2 separate regions of the Homo sapiens genome follow, and region 2 is linked to region 1. A link means that fine-mapping ties the variant in region 1 to the expression of a gene that starts in the linked region. Tissue or cell type: whole blood. Region 1 holds a variant in brackets; the other region holds the start of a gene. All regions are shown on one strand. Distances are between the middles of the regions.

The links. PIP is the estimated chance that this variant, and not a neighbour inherited with it, causes the effect.
Region 2: it holds the start of NCF1, and the variant in region 1 is fine-mapped to the expression of NCF1 in whole blood (TOPMed, PIP 0.96).

What each region holds. Positions count from the first base shown.
Region 1 is chr7:74,370,966-74,373,465 of GRCh38, forward strand. CLIP2 (CAP-Gly domain containing linker protein 2) reads left to right here. Exons shown (of 17, transcript NM_003388.5): 9 at 1,967-2,071. Among named protein-coding and RNA genes, the nearest start is that of GTF2IRD1, 82 kb to the right of the region's middle. RefSeq lists an enhancer at 1,188-2,186. The variant G/T (reference allele first, on the strand shown) is at 1,401.
Region 2 is chr7:74,772,348-74,774,970 of GRCh38, forward strand. NCF1 (neutrophil cytosolic factor 1) reads left to right here and starts at 1,664. Exons shown (of 11, transcript NM_000265.7): 1 at 1,664-1,756. The coding sequence starts at 1,685. RefSeq lists an enhancer at 1-490.

The DNA of each region.
Region 1 (2,500 bases):
GGCCAGGCGTGGTGGCTCACACATGTAATCCCAGCACTTTGGGAGGCTGAGGTGGGCAGATCACCTGAGGTCAGAGGTTCAAGACCAGCAAACATGGTGAAACCCCGTCTCTACTCAAAAATACAAAAGTTAGCTGGGCATGATGGTAGGCACCTGTAATCCCAGTTACTCGGGAGGCTGAGGCTGGAGAATTGCTTGAACCTGGGAGGTGGAGGTTGCAGTGAGCCGAGATCGCGCCACTGCGCTCCAGCCTGGGTGAAAGAGGGAAACTATGCCTCAAAAAAAAAAAAAAAAAAAAAAAGGTTGAGGGGAGGAGTCCTTTGGAGTGGGACCGAATGAAGTTGCCCTTGAAATTGCGAAGCTGGAGGCTTTTTCTTGCCTGTGCGGGCTACCAGTTCAGTGTGTAGGATCATGCACCATCTATGAGGGTTCCAGACAGGGCTGTTGTGCCCACCGACGGGGATAGGGGTGGCTGGGATGGAGCTTGTGATTTTCTGGAAGAGACATGCTGACTTCTTGTTGGCACTGGAACACACTGCCAGGAGGGAGGCGGGGGAGGGAGGGAGAGGAGAGAAAGAGAGAGGGAGGGACACAAAGAGGGGAGACAGGAAGGGAGAGAGGGGAAAAGAGAAGGAGAGAAGGAGGGAGGGAGGGAAACAGGGAGGGGAATGGAGAGAGAGAGGGAGGGAGAGAGGGAAAAAGAAAGGAGGGAGAGAGACGGGGGGGAGAAAGAAGAGAGAGAAAGTGGGAAGGAGAGGGGAGAGAGAAAGGGAAGGACAAAGAGGGAGAGGGAGGAGAAGGAGAGAGGAGGGGAGAGAGAGAACTTTTTTTGTTGTTCCTTAAGGAAAATTCAAGAAATAAAATAGGCCAAAGGACATAATCATCTCAATGTCTCTTAATGAATTGCAGGAGTATTTCTAATCAGGTGATGTCCGTTTACACCTTCACCAATAGACAAGCTTCCGGGGTTTTATTACAGGTTTCACACCTAGAGGCTGTTTTGCTAAGCCCCGCCCCTTCAGAACTGCCCTGCAGCTGCTTTAACCCCTTCTCTCCTGGAGTATAAAGAGGACCCTCTGGCTTCTCCCTAAGATGAACTTGGGTCTCCAAACTGCTCCCAATGTCCTCACCCTCCCAGCTTCCCTTCCAAGATCTGTTCTGTGAAATGCAAAAGCCAGTCTTGACACCCTGAGAATGCTGGCCTTTGTCAGCAGATGAAGCAGATATTGTCGAGCTGGGACAAAAGTGCCCTTGTGATTTGTGGAGACCAGGCGTCCTCTGTGGGGTCCGGTGGGGTGGGCAGCAATGGGGCCCGGGAGTGGGAGGCACAGCCCGGCCTCCACCAAGGAGGCTGGGGCCAAGAGGATCGTGAGGGGTCGGGTATATTTTGGAAACATCTT[G/T]CGTGTTATGGGTTCTTGCACTTTTAGCACAGGCCTTGGGGGGGGGGGGGAGTCGAGCGGGAATCCCGGGGTCCTTTATTTATTCCTCATCCTGTGGGTCTCCTGTGTGGAGGATGCTTTGCCTACAACCAGTGACAGCCTGCAGGGGAACGGGAACAGGATGGGCCCCTCCCCAGGAGCAGATCCTTGATGAGGACCTTCAAGGTCAAGGGCTGCTGGTTGGGGGTTGGGGGGGACAGAAAAGCGAGGTGCCCATTGCTACCCCAAGCAGGGGCCAGCGAGGGAGGATGGCTTGCAGGCCCCCACCCCCCACCGCCCTACACTGACCCAGCCGGGACACAGCAAGGGGTGGGCATGAGGCCCCACACCCCTCGCCTCCCCAGACTTCCTCTCTTTCGCTGAGCAATTCTGGCTCATGAATCTACTCTCCTCGCCTTGTTCACGGAAGATGACGCCTCCTCTCTCTCTCTCTCTCTTTCTCTCTCTCTCCGGCTTCTTCTTCCCTGTGCCCCCCTCCCTGCGTCCCCGCCCCCACCCCCCCACCGTGTCCACCCTGGGTGGACCAGACCCAGACGCAGCTGGAGCACGCGCGCATTGGGGAGCTGGAACAGAGCCTGCTACTGGAGAAGGCGCAGGCCGAGCGGCTGCTCCGAGAATTAGCGGACAACAGGGTAACCGCGCCACCGCACCCGCCTGGCCCGCCAGCCACCTTGCCCTTTGATGCCCCCTCTGGCTTCTCTGTTTCATTATTGACTCTCTTTCTTTAGCTGCTATCATCTTTTTTATTTTTATTTTTTATTTTTGCATCCCCTTGGAGGAGGGAAGTCAAGATTTAGAAATGTGCTTATGTGGCCGGGTGCGGTGGCTCACGCCTGTAATCCCAGCACTTTGGGAGGCTAAGGAGGGTGGATCGCCTGAGGTCAGGAGTTCGAGACCAGCCTGGCCAACATGGTGAAACCCCATCTCTACTAAAAATATAAAAATTAGCTGGGCGTGGTGGCTCATGCCTGTGATCCCAGCTACTTGGGAGGCTGAGGCAGGAGAATCGCTTGAACCTGGGAGGTGGAGGTTGCAGTGAGCTGAGATCGTGCCACTGCACT
Region 2 (2,623 bases), 400 kb after region 1:
ATGAACTCATGACCTTGAATGAGCTCCAAAAGCTCTGGGCCTCCCAGGCTCTAGGGGGAGTGGGAGAGAGAGGCCTCAGCCTGTCCCTGGGCATGCTGCCCCCTCCTCACCTCTTTGTCCCAAATCCCCTTCCTGGCAAAGCTGACAGTCTTAATATCACTCTGGAGAAAACTGAGTCAGCCCTAAGGAACAATTCAATGAACCATTTGCTTACTTGAGGATTGGAACTCAAGTCTCACTCAAAGTCTGTGCCATTTTCGTCCCAGCTGTCACTGGCCCTCATCCACACACACCCAAGGATGAGCATCTAACGCTTGCATGCACACTCCCATGCCCGCGTTCATTCACTCATTCATTCATTCATTCACTCATTCATTGACTCATTCATTCATTCACTCACTCATTCATTCACTCAGTGAATGTTGCAGTCACGATCCAAATATTTATGGCCTCTGTGTGCCAGGCACTAGATGGAGGGGCTGGGGCTAGAGCCCCTGATAACCCGGTCATGCCCTAGCTTTCCTGGGACACACATTGTGGTAAGGGGAGACTAAAAAAATTAAGTCAGGCCAGGCACGGTGGCTCATGCCTGAATCCCAGCACTTTGGGAGGCCGAGGCGAGTGAATTACCTGAGGTCAGGAGTTCAAGACCAGCCTGGCCAACATGGAGAAACCCAGTCTCTAATTAAAAAAAAAAAAAATTAACCAGGTGTGGTGGCACATGCCTGTAATCCCAGCTACTCAGGAGACTAACGCAAGAGAATTGCTTGAACCCAGGAGGCAGAGGTTGCGGTGAGCCGAGATCGCGCCATTGCACTCCAGCCTGGGAAACAAGAGCGAGACTCCATCTCAAAAAAAAAAAAGTGGGAGGCAGAGGCAGGAGGATCACTAGAGGCCAGTAGTTTGAGACCATCCTGGGCAACATAGCAGGACCCTGTCTGTACAAAAAAATTAAAAAAAATTTAACCGGGCATGGTGGCACACACCCGTAGTCCCAGCTACTCCAGAGGCTGAGGCAGGAGGATCGCTGGAGCCCAGGAGTTGGAGGCTGCAGTGAACTGTGATCCCACCACTGCACTTAAGCCTGGATAACAAAGCAAGACCCTGTCTCAAATAACAATAGCAATAATAATAAAGAAAAATTAAATGCAATTTGCGATGCATCAGTGATAAGTGCTCTGCAGAAAAAGGAGGCAGGAAGAGGCTGAGAAAGGTATGAGGTTTGCTATGCAATGTGAAGTTATCAAGGAAGGCTTCTCGGAAGAGGTGACATTTGAGCAGAGAAATGGAGGAGAGTTATGGAGGGAAGATGGTGAATGGGGGGAACATGGTCAAGACCAGGAATATGGTCAAGGGGGGAAAGATGGTCAAGGGGACGCAGCAAATGCAAAGGCCCTGAGGCAGGAGCAGCTTGATTCACCCCCAAAACCCGTGGGGCCCGTGCAGGCGACGGGAAGGACAAGTGTAAACCCTTTTCCTTGTCCCTGCAGGTGTGTGTGAACATGAGTCTGCCCATGTTTACACCCTGCAAGCCTGAAGAGTCCCCAGAAACTGAAAGAAGAAGCAAAGCCCTTTCTGTACCCTCCCTGCCCCCTGTCCCGACCGCGACAAAAGCGACTTCCTCTTTCCAGTGCATTTAAGGCGCAGCCTGGAAGTGCCAGGGAGCACTGGAGGCCACCCAGTCATGGGGGACACCTTCATCCGTCACATCGCCCTGCTGGGCTTTGAGAAGCGCTTCGTACCCAGCCAGCACTATGTGAGTAGCTGGTGGAGGGCATCCCGTGGGGGGAATACGGGAGGGACAGCACGGCCACCCTTGCAGTCCCAGGGCCAACCAGCTCCAGTGAGGACTAACGGGGCAGGGTCTTGGGCACCTGGTCCCTGGTCTTTGAGCCTGGATCTACCCCTCTGATCCCTGGGAAGACAGTTCCCTTGGACCCGCCCTGGGCCCCAGCCCTTTACTGTCCCCGCCTGTGTCCCCAGCCAGGCCCTCAGCCTTAGCCAGGAGTCCTCTTTCTGCTCCCCTGCCATGGCCAGGCAGCCCAGCGCTCTCTCAGGTCCGAGGCCCACTCCTCCAGGAAGCCTTCCCTGACTAGCCCAGCTATCAGAGAGTGGCCCTCCCAAGAGGGAGGCCTGGAAACTAAAGCTCTCTCTCTCCCCAGCTGCCTGTAGTGTCAGTTAGAGTCTTATCCTCTCCAGTAGGGTGACACCATGACAGGGGCCAATAGAGTCCTCCCATCTGTCCCCAAGGAGGCTGGACAAATGCCTGCTCAGACACACAAGTCCACTGGGTCCCCTAATCCCATAGGAAGGCCAGGGAGGAACTACATTTAGGAAATTGAAGCTTGTATGGAACATTTAGTCCTATGTGCCAAGACCTTTCTCTTTTTTGTTATTTTTTTGTTTTTTGAGACAGAGTCTTGATCTGTTGCCCAGGCCAGAGTGCAGTGGCACGATCTCAGCTCACTGCAACCTCCGCCTTCCAGGTTCAACTGGTTCTCCTGCCTCAGCCTCCAGAGTAGTTGGGATTACAGGTGCCCACCACCACGCCTGGCTAATTTTTGTATTTTTAGTAGAGACAGGGTTTCACCATGTTGGCCAGACTGGTCTCAAACTCCTGACC